4 separate regions of the Homo sapiens genome follow, and regions 1, 3 and 4 are each linked to region 2. The links come from fine-mapping of genetic effects on gene expression. A gene starts in region 2. Each other region holds a variant in brackets. All regions are shown on one strand. Distances are between the middles of the regions.

Region 1 (4,164 bases), 630 kb after region 2:
ATTTGTCACCAAAGCAGTTGTGCTACGTTGTTTTATTCCAGGAGCTGTAATTTTAGGATGTTAGTATTGTGGGTGGATGTGAAAGAAATGAAATTATTTTTCCCTCCACCCAAAATCGTACCCCAGAGAGCACCAGGGTTGTAAAAAGTCCCTGTACTCTTAAGTCAGATGCAAGACAGTGGGGCCCCAGGTTGGAATGCAGGGAGCCCCAGGTGGCTGGGGTCTGGGCAGCTCATACCCACTGTTTTCCTCTCTTTGTCTGCCGCTGGACCTAAAGTTATATGCATCCCCAAAAACAGCAGCGTAATTCCCTAAAACCAGGCCTGACAACTAAGAAATCACTTTCCATAAGGTCAGAGACATTTACAATAAGAAGGTAGCCCCAGGGAGACAGAAAAAAGATCAGACTCTACAGAGGAGCAAAAGTGGGTTTTAGGCGCTGTTGACGCTCCAGCCCTGGGCTTAGAAGGAGGACTTGGCACCAATTCCAGCTCACACATGGCTTCTGATGCTCAAAACAAGCTGCAGTCCCTCCCCATGAGCTCTGGACAGGAGGGAGATTTGGAGTTACCCCGCCCAGTGAGAGGGCTTGGACCTGTGCAGTAGCCCCTGTTCCTGCAGCCCATGATAACCCGGTAGGAATGAAGCCGTGCTTGCCCTCCAGGGTAATCTGCCTGAAACAGCCACTCCTGTGTAGGGCAAGAGCTTATCTCAGCACCACGGTTACTACAGGAATAGTTAGTGGAGAGCAGCTGAGAGTTTCTGCATCTCCACAGTCAGGTGAAAATGGTAGCCTTTAACAGAAAAATATTTTATCCGGTGTTTCTCAGGGCCCTGCAAGGGGTTTCGCGGCCAGAAGCCCCACTCCATGGAGCACAGATCCATCTGTGCAGGCCAAGTGGGGTGGGCGGGGAGATTTCAAAAATAAGATTCCAGCCAAGAAGAAACTCACTGTTCATTTTCCAGGTGAACTGAATTGGACCAGGTTCTTAGGCATGTAAGAGAGGGGAAATTTAAGTACAGAAAGAGTGAAATGAACTTTGCCACAATGGGTCAGATGCAGAAAGGGGATGCTCCATAGGATAAAAATGAGGGGCTGGGTAATCTAAGGGGCTGAGCGCAGGGAATAGACCCTCCGCCATGCCTGTGCTCTGCTGGGAATTCAGTGAACACCCAGGCACCTTGGACAAATCCTTTAACCACGCACGCATATATCTGCACATGTGTGTTCGTGTTCTCTGTGCGTCTGTCGCCCTATTGGTGAGTACTGCTAAACTCTCTTTACCAAAGCCCAGGGATATAGGAAAGAATCTAGATCTCACACGTGACTATTCAGTGGGCCTGTCGCCTATTAGACAGCAGTGATCAATGTCATGTTTCTTGCGAAGCTTCTGTGTCCTTGTCGGGTGCTGTGGCGGGGAAGGAAGGAAGTCGGAGGCAGGGTCTTCTTCCTTAAAGATCTTCTAGTGTAACTGAGAAGACAGGCAGAAGAAGGAACTTTTATTTTGAGACACGGTCTCATTCTGTCGCCCATGCTGGAATGCAGTGGTGCAATCATAGCTCACTGCAGCCTCCACCTTCCAGGCTCAAGCAATTCTCCCACCTCAGCCTCAGCCTCCCGAGTAGCTGGGACTATAGGTACACACCACCGTACCCAGCTTTTTTTTTTTTTTGGAGAGACTGGGTCTCACAGTGTTGCCCAGGCTGGTCTCAAATTCCCAAGCTCAAGCAATCCTCCCATCTTGGCCTCTCAAAGTGCTGGGATTACAGGCGTGAGCCACTGCCTGGAACCTGGCTGAGAAGAAGGAACTCATGGAGTGTCACAAGAAACAAAGAAACCTGCTCTAGACGACAAGTAGCTAGTATACAGGAGAGGCAGGATTTGAACCTAGGAGGTCTGGCTCCAGAGCTCATGCCCTTTATCTCTATACTGTACAGAAGGGCCAGACGTCGTGGGCCATGAAGGGTGAAGGACAGGGTCACCAGAGGCCTGGCTGGTCAGGAAGGGAGAGGCTTACCAGGAAGGAGAGGTCTGAGTTGGACCTGGAGGGGTAACTAGGATTAAAGCCACGTGGTAGGGCCTCAGGGGGATATAGATGTCAGGTGGGGGCTTCTCAATTAGGATAAACAAATGAGGGAGGGTCTGGCTGGAGGGAAGTGGGAGTTGGAGGAGCCCAGAGGAAGAAGCAGAGCTGTCTCGTCCCAGGCAAACTCGCTCTGAGTACACTGAGTTAGCCTGCAGACAGGCAGGAATGGGGGAGAGGCCCAGGGAGGCCAGAGGTGGAGACCCGGGATGACTTCAGCATTAAAGACACACAAGGAAAGGAAATGGCTTCAGGTCAGT[T/C]ATTTAGCATGGCAGAGCCAGAGCTATGAGCTGTAAGATCTTTCTTGCACTCAGTTCTCTTTTTCACATCCTAGTGGTGCCTTTTTTCTCTTGTATTGAGAGTTACTATTTCACGTATTCATGAGCCACGTGTGAGTGCGTTACATGCATAGAACATGGAATGATCAAGGCAGGGTACGTGGGGTATCCATGGCCTTGAGTGTTTTTTTGTTTGTTTGTTTGTTTTGTTTTTTGAGACAGAGTCTCACTTTGTCCCCAGGCTGGAATGCAGTGGCGCCATCTCGGCTCACTGCACCCTCCACCTTCCAGGTTCAAGCAATTCTCCTGCCTCAGCCTCCCAAGTAGCTGGGACTACAGGCGTGCGCCACTACACCCAGCTAATTTTTTTATTTTTAGTAGAGATGGGATTTCATCACGTTGGCCAGGATGGTCTCAATCTCTTGACCTCGTGATCCACCCGCCTCAGTGTTTACTATTTTTATGTTGGTATCATTGCAAGTCCTCTCTTCCAGTTACTTTGAAGTGAACCTCGCGGTGCTTTTTAAGTTGAATGTGTCATCCTATTGCTTGTGGCCTTGCTTATTTGAGGTAGGGAAGAGGAATGTGATTGGCCTCACGTTAGTTTGGTGTTCCGGGCTCAGCCCCTCCCCCAAGCCAGGAAGGCAGTCAGAACTGCAGTAATAGGATGGGCAACGCCAGATACGGTCATTTAATGAAGATGTAATCGATGGGAATGATTCAGGGCAGAGGCTGCTTTCTGGGCCGATGGGCTCAGGTGTGATTGCACCATTCCCTGTGGGGCACTGGACAACACTGTGCACTTTCTCCCCCTGGGCATCCTAACTCAATGCTTAGCTTCATTTCTGAGCTTCTCCAGGCTGGGCCAATATTTCACTTCTACGGTTTGGGTAAAATAGGAAGGGCTTGAAGCGAAAGATGAGGAGAGGAGATAAAGTAATGATAGAGCAGGAGAAGAACTCTGAGTATCTGATTTAGATGCTCCGGGGAACTACCCGGACCTGACCAGCCACTTACCTCTTCTGCCCTCCCGGTACCTGAGAAATGGAGGTACCTAGCCTTGCACCACCTTTCAAGATACTGTTCTTGTCTAATTCAGCTTTTCTGGGGGGAAAAAAAAGTCATTCATTTATTTCCAAGAGCAAGAACTGCTATGGAAGCCAAGCTGGGAGCACAGATCCCTGTTTTCTTTTAAATTTAGAGAGACTGGCGAGGGATCTCCCCCTCGCTCTCTCCCTGGCTCCTTTTTTCAATTATTTTCAACTGTGTGCTCTTTCACGCTCTGGCTTTTTTTTTTTTTTTTTTCCTTCACTTTTGTTGGAACCGAAGGGAGAAAAAACCTGTGTGGACTCAGTAACATTAACCACCGGATCTGAATTTCTCCTTAAAAGTGAGGGTGAACAAGACTCCACTTTAAATCTTTAGCACCCCCGACCCCCGCCCAAAGTAAGATATTGCTGGCAGCTTTGTTTTCTTTAAGGGAAAATTAGCCATGAAAAAAAATGTTATTGTTTGTAAGTCCTGATTACCCCCAGGTTTCTTCCAAATTAGATATGTTAGTCTTGAGAACATACATTTTGTTTCTGATGTCCATGTAAAATGCCCCAAATCCCAGCCCACCTTCCTGTCAACTTGTCTCACATGCATGCGCACACACACACACACACACACACACACATGCAAACACACATTCTTAGATTTCATTTGCAAAATAATCTGCCTATCCTATAAAATATACTTCACTAAGAGCATGACCATATAACTCCCCCTAACTCCATGAATGTGGAGATGAACAGTTCCCG
Region 2 (4,164 bases):
TTAAATCACTATTATAGACCTGTTCCTTAAATCATTGTTATTATTTTTCAAATGTGACTATACATATTATTTTGAATAGTATTGCAATCCACCAGCACAGTCAGAATGTCCTGACAGTTCTGTGCAAGGCCACATGCATGCGACTCAAGTCATGCTTTGAATCTCCAGGCACCTGCTGGCAAGGAGGGTTGCTCTGGTGTTCCGGGGATCAGTAACATGAGACTCCATCCACACACTGTGGAATCAAGGTTCAAGCTCATTGGGCCACTATAGGAAAAACAAAATGGGAGAAAATTTTTCACTCACTTATTTTATTTTGTTTTATTCTTTTCTTTTCTTTTTTTTTTTATTTTGAGACAGAGCCTTGCTCTGTTGCCCAGGCTGGAGTGCAGTGGTGCGATCTCACCACAGTGCAACCTCTACCTCCCAGGTTCAAACGATTCTCCTGTCTCAGTATCCCAAGTATCTAGGAACACGGGTGCCCACCGCACCCGGCTAATTTTTGTGTTTTTCATAGAACAGGGTTTTGCCATGTTGACCAGGCTGGTCTTGAACTCTTGACCAGGCTGGTCTTGAACTCTTGACCATAGGTGATCTGCCCACGTCAGCCTCCCAAAGTACTGGGGCTACAGGCGTGAGCCATTGCACCCAGCCTTCACTCATTTATTGAATATATTTTAGTACTTACTCTGTGCTAAGCACTGTGATGAGCAAATACTTTTTATTTTTAAATTTTTTTAGAGACAGAGTCTTGCTCTGTCCCCCAGGCTGGATTGCAGGAGTGCAGTCATAGCTCCCTTCAGCCTTAAACTCCTGGACTGAACTGATCCTCCCACCTCAGCCTCCCAAGTAGCTGAGACTCTAGGCACACACTACCATGCTTGGCTAATTCTTTTATTTCTATTTTTCTTTTTTTTTTTTTTTTTTGTAGAGATGAAGTCTTGCTATGTTGCCTAGGCTCACCCTGAATTTTGGGTCTCAAGCTATCTTCCTGCCTCAACCCCCAGAAGTGCTGGGAATGCAGGTGTGAGCTCCCATACCTGGCCCAAATCAATAGTTTTAAAAGTATAAGTAATAAAGGAACAGTAGCTATGCTCGTGCACAGGAACATGAAAGGTCATTAATTTCTTCCCCCTAGTTTCTTATTTCGAAAACTGTTCTCTATGTTTCTACATTTCACACTGTCTAGTTAATTTTCAGGATTTTTTGGAGCCATTACAGGAGGTGAGTAAAGGAAGAAATCAGAAAAGGACATACTAGAAGTATCAGGAATAACCATTTTTAGTTGAATACATGGACTCCAGAAGAAGATACAAGCTTGACAGTGCTCATGAAAAGATATCTAATTTTCTTAAGTCTTTGACTCTGGAAAGCCCTTTGAGCTACCCATTATATAACAAGATTCGGCAGGTTTTTTCTTTCTCCCTTCATTGACATCTTCCGGGGAAAATGCTGCATGATATGATTTTCAAGGCTAACTTGCCTTTTCCTGTTAAGCAGTGTCCCTTGTGACAAATTCACCTCCTATGCCTCCCTGAACTAGGGAGGCTCCTTCAAAATTCCTAACAGGCAGCCCTGTGGAGAGATGGGAGGGAAGGGATGGGAGGGAGGAAGGGCGGGAGGAAGGGAGGGAGAGAGAGGTAGAGTGTGTCTGTATGCGGCGTACATGTGGTACAGCCAGGGAGATCAGAACGCTCACAGAACAGGCAGTGCAATTCCATGTTCCTCTTAAGTATGTTAGCCCTACCGGGAGCTGAGCTGGCCAGTCTACTTGGAGAGGAAAAGTAGATCTGGGGAAGGTGGAAGGGTCAGTTCCTAAGTGACTTCCTCCTCGGGGATGGTAAGGGCATTTGCTGATCTCCAGTGACTGCCTGGTGCCTCATGGTCAGACTCGGCTGTCTCACTCCCAGATATCTGATTTTGCAAAAAGGGACACACCTATCTGCAGCAAAGAAGACACTGACCAGATTGCGAGCGGTATGTTGTGACATTCAGCATGTTTATGCAGCAGAATTGCTGAGAGATGCAGAGAGAGGGGGTGGCTCGGGCTGCTTGATTTATCTGCAATAGGGAATGTTTTATTTTAATTGTCAGTTAAAGGAAGAATTGCTGCCAGGGCGAAGGTAGCAGTTAAACATTCCGTGTTCTAAGCTTTCACGTTTGTGTTTGATGCGGTCTCCCTGTCTGTGCCGCTTTGCGAAGCTAGGGAGGGCTCACTTTTAAATAACCTGCAGCTTCCTATTTTCCTTCTTCTTTTTTTTTTTTTCCTCCCTAAGCACAGTTCCCACCCTGTCTTCCCTGACCTCCTCCCCACCCTGTGTGAAAGGTGGCCTATCTTCCCCTTGAGCCTTTTGCTCCCTAAGTCTGGATTTTGGCTGCTTTTTCTGCAGGTGCTTTTGGATGCTCTGTAGCCACCCGGGGCCCAGGAGGACTGACTCGGCAGCAGGATTCGTGCATGGGAATCGGAGACCATGGCAGTGCAGCTGGTGCCCGACTCAGCTCTCGGCCTGCTGATGGTGAGTGTTCAGACAGGAGGTGGGGCCCGGGCAGCGTCCACTCCAGCCTCCCCTGCACCGTGGGCTGCTGCTGCCGCTGCAGTGGCTGCAGACATGTTCAACATTGCTCCGCTTTATCCCGCAGGCTCTTTGGAAATGCTTTCTTGGGTCAGAGTATCAGCATGACAAAGCACTTGCAGGGAAAAGAAGCTGTAGATTTGCCATTTCAGAAACTTGTTGCTGAATGCTATTTTGAGAGCTGTGCTTGCAAACAGGTGCTAAGAGCCCCTCGAAATAGATTGCTAGGATGCCTCCTCCAGCTCCCAGCATCCTTTCCCCCTTGTCTTTTGCATCTAAATTGAGCTGATTGTGTTTGTTTTTGGATATCTTCTCAGGGCAACTGTGGAATCTGTTGCCCATGGGGTGACAGAATGGGGTCTTCTTTCTAGGCGCCCATATATCTGCTCATACTTTCCTGTAGAGGTGGTGGAGGAGGTTCACTGTGGCTTCAGTGATGCTTGGGCTACTGAGTTGGGAGCAGCTTGTTTCCTATCTACCATTGATGGCCAACCTTGGCAGGACTTGTCCAGGCATTTATCTGTGTGTGAGCAGCTGACTCACCTTATGCCCCTCTGGAATTTTCACCATATTAAGAAAGCCCTAGCTCTTACCATATTAAAGCACACAAGGACATGGGCACTGTCTTGTTCCAACCCAATTGGCTTTTGGCTTGACACTAGGTTCAGCAGTGGCTTTTGCCATGGTTTTGCATCTCTCTCCTTTCCCAGGGTTCCCACACACCACGGTAATACTGGCTGTTGTCGGAAGTAGCCTGCATCAGGCTTGGCATGGAAATGTTTCCAGCATTTACACAGGAGATTTTATGAACCAAGCATAAGTGCTTCTGTGTATATTGATTTGTGTCTTCGGAATGAGGAGGGGAAATGCAACTTTGCAAGGCCTGATGAGTTTATGGAGGTGACTTGGAAGAGCCGTCAGTGGGAAGCCTGCCCCCTGGGTGGCAAGCCAGGTCATGTTAAAAGGAACAGATATCTTGGTTCTTCGTTGCTCAAAATTCCACTGGGTCCACAGATTTAGTTGAATTGCCTGAAATCTATCTCATGGGCCTCTGCTGACTTCTCATTTCACTGGGGGAGTAGGACTAGAAGAAATGAAATTGTCAGTTTCCAGAGAAATTACCCATTACCTGACTTCTTTCCCTTACTAATTCTATCGTCTGATGATACTTTATCCTCCATCGTCTACCTGTGGTCAAATAAACTGGATAGGAATTTTCATTCCATCACTGAGTATTCGTGATGATGGCTGGCACTAAAATGCATTATCTATGGGGTCTAGGAGACTTCTGGGAACCTGGGAGCCTGGGTTATATGCTCTGAAATACAGGCACACATATGCACACACACACACACACACACACACACACACACATGCATATGTATATTATATTATCTAGTACACTAACAGAAATAAATCCTGCATCGTGTTAATATAGAGGAGAAAAGTTTTCTTGAAAAATATCTTTAGGGAGAGTTAGACCCGCTTGTCTCAGCCTCCTACTTGGACCTTTCTTCTATACTTAGAAGAAAGATGTGTATCTGCTTTATTCCAAGCCCCTAAGCATGAATCCTTGGTATCCAAATTAAAT
Region 3 (4,164 bases), 320 kb after region 2:
GATGAAGGCTTCAGCAGCGGCTGAGTCTCCCACTGGATGGGTCTCCAAGGTTCTAGACTCCACTAGGTGACCTGGCCCCTGGCTCTAATAACTCGGCTCCTCCCTTGACCCCTTAGGCCAGCCTCCCTGCCTCCCCCTTTGTGGTTCTTAGCCCCTCCGTCCCCTGTGCCCAACTCCTGGTGACATCAAAGCAGCAGCTCCAGAAACTCTAAAATTGCTCAATCTAACAATTTCCTATATTGACATTCTCTTCTTTTCAAAGACAGAGTTTTCCATTTTCCTGTTGGGTTCAATGGATGTATCTTCCTTTGGGATTTCCAAACTGCTGTAATCTGATAAAGTCCTGTAGGACAGGCAAGCTGGGCCCTGAAATCACACCAGTTGACTTTGGTTTTCATCCTAGCTCTGACATTTCTAGCTGTGCTGCCTTGGCCAACTTACTAAGCCCCTCTGAGCACCAGTTTCTTCACCACTGAAACAGGGATAATGAAACGCATTTCCTCCATGGAAGTAGCCTTTGATAACCTCACAGCACATGGCCTGCCAATGGGTAGGTGCTCAGTGAACATTCATTCCCCTTGCTTCTCCTAAAGTGGTCATAACTGTGAGAGTATGAATGCATATCCCTTCCGGGGAAACATATTTGTATTCTAACAATGGAAAGAAATACTTGGCCAGGCATGGTGGCTCATGCCTGTAATCCTAGCACTTTGGGGGGCCGAAGCGAGGAGATTGCTTGAGCCCAGGAGTTCAAGACCACCCTGAGCAATATAGTGAGACCCTGTCTCTATTTAAAAAAAAAAAAAAAAAAAAAAAAGACCTAAACTCGACAATTAATTTTGAATATGTAAGTCTCCGACACCCATGGCAAGACAATCAGAAAGATATTTTTGGACCAGCAACCTTTGAGAGCCTTGAAATCACTCCAAGGAGGGGGTCACCTACTCCGCGGGGACTGGGGAGGGCTCCATTATCTGGGAGGAGGCTTTTGTGCTAATATGAAAAGTGATCCTTCTCCCCGCCTCCCAAGGGAAGGATGTGGAATGTGTGAGACTCAGATGTGTGGGAGTCTGGCCCAGGGTTATTTTTGTTACCATTAACATTCTCTTCTATATGTATTTTAACCTTAATCAAATGCATGTGTTTTTGTTTTATTTGCACTTAGTTCATCAAAATGTCCCTTATGATCTGAACTATGCCATAAGCCTAAGCTCCACAGTGAAACACTCATTAATACCCCTGGGAAACAGGAAGTTGCATTTAGTCAAATGTAAATAAATTCAGCTCCCCGGGGCTTTGCCCTGGCCTGGGTCAGAGAAGAGGACAGTGGCTTCTCAGTCCATCTCATCATTGTCCCCCCCACCGACCCCAAAACTGAGCTGGAAGAATGACATGCCGTGACTCTCAACAGATAAAGTGTTCTGAAAGTGTGCCTATCCTTTGTTCAAAACCGTTACAACGTCAAGTGCAGTTTTACAAAGAAATGAGTTTCTCTTGCTTTGGCTCAATCATCGGGTATCGTTCCAGATTTTTTCCCACCCCCCGCCAATGCTCTGAAACCAGGCAGTGCAGGCAAGAAGCAAGAAAGAGAGAAAAAAGAGATGTAAACCTAAACCACCTCACCAAAGACGCCGTGTGAGCCGTGGTTAAGAGGTTTCCGTCTCCCCGTCTCTCTCACCCTCTCACTGACTCTCCTACTGCACACATGGAACCAATTACGAACAAAGCCCAATTGTTGTATATTTGGAATTTCCCACATCAACCTGATGCTTTCTTTAACTGACTCGTGATGTGTGTCTGCG[C/T]TGGAGGGCTGAACCCAGGTTTCCAGCCCGTGCGCTGCTGCCGCCGCCGTGGCACCCTTCGCCTCTTTCTTCTGATTCATTTTCTCATAGTACAAAACTCTGCTTCTTTCCTTCGCACCCCACCCCCATTTCCTATTAGGTGTGTTTGAATAAACAGAACCTTCATTTCCGTCATTTTCAATGAAGTAAGCACACTGGTCTGCAGACAGTGTCTCAAAGCTGGTGCCCAGAGCGTATGAGTGGTATCAAGGCTAATACCAAAAACCACGGGATGATTACAAAGGAAATGGCCATCCCTTTCATAAAACTCAGAACAGACAGAAGCAGTGTATGTAGAAATGCTTTAAAAAGAAAAAGAAAAAAAAAACCCAAACATACCCCATATCCTGGAAGCACCTTACTTGATTTTCTTTGTAGTAATTTTTTCTGCTATGGAAATAAGCCGATTTCAGGAGGAGTAGAGATGGGGAAGGTAGGGGAAAATATTACAGAAAAGTTAACGTTTGAGACCATTTATGCCATCCATCAAAGAAGGCTGTGTGATCTGAAATTACACAATATGATCAGAAAATAATTGACAGACGTGATGGATGAATCTGCTTCGACACAGCCGTGTAAAACGAAACATAATTTCTTCTTGTTTACTGGCACACGTAAAAATAAATGTTCTATAACACAAACATTTAAATGAGAAGGTGCCAAACACAAGCCTGTTCGATTTGATTTGATTCATCTGAACCATGTGATTGCAACAGTTTCTTCTTCTTTCCCTCATACTTTCTCTCTGTGGACTGTATTCACATATACAGTGAGTAATACCCGTGCGTTTATTTTTATGCGTTAGAAAGCAGGAAGGGTAAACAGATACGCATGTCTGATGCTCAGTTTTATAGATAGAATTTATGATTTCAAAGAGGTCCCTGATGTGTTCTGTCTGTGGTCTTCAGATATTGTTCCTCCGTTCAGAAGGGAGTGAAATCAGAGTGTAGGATTCTGCATTAATCTCCACTCCAGATGGTGATATTCCAAATAGTCTTTTTAAGGTGAGCATGTGACCTACTGTACGGCCGAGGGGCTTGGGAGTCACGTGATGGAATGAATAATACGTCTGATAGAGCTTTGATTAGACAACTGACCTGATTACCATCTGCAGCCACGAGAAGCAAAGTTGACATTTCTGGATCACTCTCCCCAGACGCGTCACTTGCCCACAAGCGGGACACGGCAGTCTCGCTGAGCCAGCTGTGCAGAGGGACAGATGGAAGAAAGCTAGAGATGCTGCTTCGTGGGCGCTGAAGTTGCAGAACTTGGGCTGGTTTTCTTTCTTCCCATCCCCCCTCCTCCTGACAAACCACATCTTGACTCAGATGGTCGAAAGAAAAACTCTTTCAGTTATTTGATATTTGGGAACCCTCCAGGAGACCATAACTTATTTTTGAGGGAGGCTCCTTCTCTCCCTTTGCTGGGAACACACACACACACACACACACACACACACACACACACACACACACACAGCTGTACACCATGGTGGTTCAGGCTGCAGTGGCTCCGAATAGATCCCAAAGACTTTTACTGAAAATTCCTTATGGATCTCTGAGAAGGCGCAGCGTTGAAAGGGTAAGCTACGTGGCGGGTTGTTTGCTTCTCAGTTGCTCCAAAGACAGGAAGATGTTTGTTTTCATTGTATACCGCGTTACTTCTGTTACTCACGTTTCCTGAACAGTTGGAGTTCCTGGGACTGTAGAATACTATCTCATCTGTAATTTTAGTTTTTTAACAGATAATGATGAGAAACCTGAAACAGTAATTTTTGTAACTTGTGGATCTCAGATGGGGGAGGGGTGCTCTTAGAGATGAAATATGAGGGAAAAGATTGGGATGGAAACTTCCCCCTGGAATGGGTTTGAAAGATTTGAGTGCTTGCTGAGAAATGCATGGGGGCTGTGAAAATGATTTCTTCTGTGTTTACTGAAACATACTCATTAGAGCAGCAGGGCTGTGAATTTCTTCTACTGGGTGACAGTGTCTAAAAGGGAGGTGATGGTGATGTTAAGGAGCTTCAAAGCTTTGGTAGTTTAAATTATGCAGGCAGTTGATTACATGCTTTTTTCCCCCCAAATACATTGCTATCATTTGGGGTTTATTTGTTTTTAATGCTATGGATTTTGGCTTAAAATTACTCTGTTAATTTCCTGAAAGCATGTTTACTTTATGGAAGCCCCTAGTAGAGAAAATCCTATAAAGTAATAATAAGGATTTGTCCTTCTCTGGAGTAACAGATGCATTTTTGGGGCTGACTCTAGTTAATGCAAAGCTGGTTGTCATTAGGGTGACAGGCTCAACATGCAGGGAGAATCCC
Region 4 (4,164 bases), 490 kb after region 2:
TTTCCTGAACCAGGAGCCTGTATGCCGTGAGCTATGATGTGGGCCTGGCTTGCTGAGCCTGGAGCCGGTGTGTCTTTCACATGACCATGTGGCAATCTGGAAAAGTCCATGTGTCTTAAGCTCTCAGTGTTGTACAAGCTGAAAGGAGAAAGAAAACAGGAGGACGCCAATGGTACCCAAAGCCAACTTAACTGGGGTCTCAGTGAAAACCTTAGGACTTTACAACTACATCTACAGATGCCCTCTGCATTACTCTGGTGCACGTTTTATGGCAGGAATCCTGTTGGCAGAGATGACCACAGAGGAGGATCACTCAGAAAGCATTTTCTCAAAAACTATAATTTCTTTAGTCTCCTGTTCAGGTGGATAATTAAATAAATGGTGATTTTCCCAAAATGCCTTTAGAAATGGTGGTCCTGGCTGGATGTGGTGGCTCACACCTGTAATTCTAGAACTTTGAGAGGCCAAGGTGGGAGGATTGCTGAAGGCCAAGAGTTCAAGAGCAGCCTGGGCAGGACAGCAAGACCCCATCTCTAAAAAACAAACAAACAAAAATTTTAATTAGCTAGGTGTGGTGGCATGCACCTGTAGTACCAGCTACTAAGAAGACTGAGGTGGGAGGATCACTTGAGCCCAAGAGTTCAAGGCTGTAGTAAGCCAAGATCCACCACTGTACTCCAGCCTGAGTGACAGAGCAAGACCCTATCTCTAAAAAAAAAAAAAAAAAAAAAAGGAAATTATTCTTCCAGCCAAGCCCTAAAGTCATATTAATCATTGCATTTATCTTAATCATCATTGGATGGTTTTTATTCAATGTCCTGGTTAAGGTCAGTATTTTAGACTGTATAATAAAGAAAACGGGCAATGTCCCCATCTCCCAGGAACTTACAGTCTAAGGTCCATATTGTAAGGTATGTAGCAAACAGAACATAGGCAGGCGCGGTGGCTCACGCCTGTAATCTCAGCACTTTGGGAGGCTGAGGCAGGCGTATCACTTGAGGTTAGAAGTTTGAGGCTAGCCTGGCCAACATGGTGAAACCCCGTCTCTACTAAAAATACAACAATTAGCTGGGCGTGGTGGCACATGCCTGTAATCCCAGCTACTTGGGAGGCTGAGGCACCAGAATTGCTTGAACCCATGAGGCAGAGGTTGCAGTGGGGCAAGATCGTGCCACTACACTCCAGCCTGGGCAACAGAGCGAGACTCAATCTCAAAAAAAAAAGGGAGGGAGGGGGAAGAAAACAGAACAGAGAGGAAGCAATGCAACAAACTGAGAAGCAGAGCAGCAAGAGACAAGTTTACAAAAGGAGATCATAAATGGCACATTGTGGCTGGGCGTGGTAGTTCATGCCTGTAATCCCAACACATTGGGAGGGCAAGGCAGGAGGATCATTTAGGCCCATGAGTTTGTGAACAGCCTGGGCAACACAGGGAGATCCCCATTTCTAAAAAAAAAAAAAAAAAAAAAAATTAGCTCTGCATGGTGGTGCACGTCTGTAGTCCCAGCTACTGGGAAGCCTGAGGCAGGATGGCTTGAGCCCAGGAGGTAGAGGCTTCAGTGAGCTATGATCACGCCACTGCACTCAGGCCTGGGCAACAGAGCAAGATCCTACCTCTAAATAACTAAATAAAGAGATAGCACGTTGTAATTCAGCAATCTTTCCTGTGATGTGTTAAATAGGGAGATGATTAGAGAAGAAAAGGTGTGCCCTGTTTTTCATGGAAAGGAAGGTTCTAGAAGAGCTAAGCCTGCTTTCTTCCTCCATCCCCTTAAGAGGTCTTCATTGGGCAGGTCACCATAGTAGCCACCAGATTCCTGATTGCTGTCATGTCATCAGAACAGGAAGCAGGAAGAAGAGAGTGAGGAAATGAAGGGAAGATAGAAAATATCGAACCCAACAGTTCTGTGCAACCAGAGATGTGTGTGTTAAGGGTACAACTTGCAGAAGAGGAGTGGGATTGGGATTGGATGGAGGAAAGCTGGGCGTAGTGCATGATGGTACAATATTCACATCTTCTTGTTGAATGCAAGGTTGCACTGTCAGTCAGTGTACCTGTGAACATACTGGTGCCCACAAAGAGATGAGATGGACCTTGAGTAATGACATTGCCTGAGTGGATAAGAAATTAGAAGCTGCCTCATCTGGCCAACTGTTAGAAAAAGTACAGTGGCTGCAAATGTGACCCCGTGATCTTTTGTAACTGCTGTAGTCTCCCCACTGCCAGCTTTCTGATCTGTGGAAAGCTCTAAACAGTTTCATTAAACAAGGTCAGGAATCTTGGCTGGAATTCTTGGCTTCTCAGGGCTTGTCATGGGAGAGGCCAGCACTCGAGGCCCAATCAGGACTCCAGAATCCAAGTGTCAGGGCCCCTGAACCTTGCTGGGCTCGGCCCAGTAGGCTTTGGGAGAAGTTTCTTTGCAGCTCACTGACCATATTAAGGGAGGGAGAAAGGCAGCAGTTAGGGCAGTTTAAACTGGTATTTGTAATTTTGGGTGGTTGTCTCAAAGAGCAACCCCCT[T/C]GAGGAAAGCATTTCTGGAGCCAGTATTTCCAAAAATGTGCTGGAGAGGGGTCTGCGTCAAGTAAGTTTGGGAAATGCCTCACCATCCTCACCATGTGTTCCCATGTGAGATGTGGGCACATTTGCTTAAGAACCACTGAGGAACCGGCCGGGTGCGGTGGCTCATGCCTGTAATCCCAGCACTTTGAGAGGCTGAGGCAGGCAGATCATGAGGTCAGGAGCTCGAGACCGTCCTGGCTAACACGGTGAAACCCCGTCTCTACTAAAAATACAAAAAATTAGCCGGGCGTGGTGGCGGGTGCCTGTAGTCCCAGCTACTGGGGAGGCTGAGGCAGGAGAATGGCGTGAACCCAGGAGGCAGAGCTTGCAGTGAGCCCAGATCGTGCCACTGCACTCCAGCCTTGGCGACAGAGCGAGACTCCGTCTCAAAAAAAAAAAAAAAAAAAAGAACCACTGAGGAACCCTGGAGTGAAGACCCCTGGTTAGTCAGTCTTTCCAGGCCCTCCTTGCCATGAAAAACCCTCCCTCCTGGGCCACAAACTCATTTTGGGGTATGTGACTTCTTCAGTTGTGGAGGAACAAGGACCCGATGTAATTAACACTCTGGGAAGTGCTATAACTGGCTCTGTCAAGACCATGTGAGACCTATTCCAGCTCTACTAGGGGTAACGGGTGGCTCCAAACAAGCCACTTCGCATTTCTGTTTCTCTGTTTCCTCCCCGCGCCCCCCAAAGAATTGTCAATTTCTGTACCACCTCTTTTTCCTTCCCAGGAAAACTACCAAGATCAAGGAAATGACATAAAAATGCTTTGGGCTGTGGTGTGACCAAAATGTCAGATGAGTGCTATGAGAGTTTCTTCCAAGACAGACTGATGTCCATCCCTTAAAGAATAACCAAAATCCTGGCCCGGTGCTTTGGCTCACACCTGTAATCCCAGCACTTTGGGAGGCCAAAGCAGGTGGATCACCTGAGGTCAGGAGTTCAAGACCAGCCTGGCCAACATGGCAAAACCCCGTCTCTACTACAAATACAGAAATTAGCCAGGTGTGGTAGCTCACACGTGTAGTCCCAGCTACTCAGGAGGCTGAAGCAGGAGAATCCCTTGAACCCGGGAGGCAGAGGCTGCAGTGAGCTGAGATCGTGCCACTGCACTCCAGCCTGGGCAACAGAGTAAGACTCCATCTCAAAAACAAAATCTTGAATTCTCTGCTGAAGTGTTTAGTGCCAGGCTCATAGTAGACACTCTCTAAATACTTAGTGAATTAATGAATAAAAATAATAATACAATGGTCCCCAACCTTTTTGGCACCAGGGACCTGTTTGAAGGAAGACAATTTTTCCAGACTGGTGAAAGGGGGAGGGGGATGGTTTGGGGATGATTCAAGCACATTACATTTCTTGTGCACTTTATTTCTATTATTATATTGTAGTATCTAATGAAATAATTCTACAACTTACCATAATGTCCTATCAGTGGGAGCCCTGAACTTATTTTCTTGCAACTAGACTGTCCCATCTGGGGGTGATGGGAGACAGTGACACATCATCAGGCATTAGACACCTGATGGAGCACACAACCCAGATAGCTCGCATGCACAGTTCACAATAGGGTTCATACTCCTATGAGTATCTAATGCCACC

Which allele goes with the higher level. Alleles are on the strand shown, and positions count from the first base shown. SD is a standard deviation of normalised expression in the study named. Not every link is listed here.
For the expression in tibial artery of the gene that starts at base 1,650 in region 2, T is the high allele of the variant in region 4 and C is the other (small effect, 0.20 SD a copy in GTEx).

Evidence for each region.
Region 1: its variant is fine-mapped to the expression of FRMD4A in whole blood (TOPMed, PIP above 0.99).
Region 3: its variant is fine-mapped to the expression of FRMD4A in whole blood (TOPMed, PIP 0.99). The same link has a PIP of 0.9 or more in blood mononuclear cells.
Region 4: its variant is fine-mapped to the expression of FRMD4A in tibial artery (GTEx, PIP 0.98).

What each region holds. Positions count from the first base shown.
Region 1 is chr10:13,702,417-13,706,580 of GRCh38, reverse strand. The region is part of intron 13 of FRMD4A (FERM domain containing 4A); the gene reads left to right. Among named protein-coding and RNA genes, the nearest start is that of PRPF18, 120 kb to the right of the region's middle. The variant T/C (reference allele first, on the strand shown) is at 2,345.
Region 2 is chr10:14,328,410-14,332,573 of GRCh38, reverse strand. FRMD4A (FERM domain containing 4A) reads left to right here and starts at 1,650. Exons shown (of 25, transcript NM_018027.5): 1 at 1,650-1,977; 2 at 2,391-2,516. The coding sequence starts at 2,472.
Region 3 is chr10:14,007,318-14,011,481 of GRCh38, reverse strand. All of the region lies in intron 2 of FRMD4A (FERM domain containing 4A), which reads left to right. It overlaps FRMD4A-AS2 (FRMD4A antisense RNA 2), which reads right to left. Exons shown (of 3, transcript NR_199003.1): 3 at 3,956-4,164. Among named protein-coding and RNA genes, the nearest start is that of FRMD4A-AS2, 18 kb to the right of the region's middle. The variant C/T (reference allele first, on the strand shown) is at 1,803.
Region 4 is chr10:13,835,560-13,839,723 of GRCh38, reverse strand. The region is part of intron 3 of FRMD4A (FERM domain containing 4A); the gene reads left to right. Among named protein-coding and RNA genes, the nearest start is that of FRMD4A-AS2, 150 kb to the left of the region's middle. The variant T/C (reference allele first, on the strand shown) is at 2,522.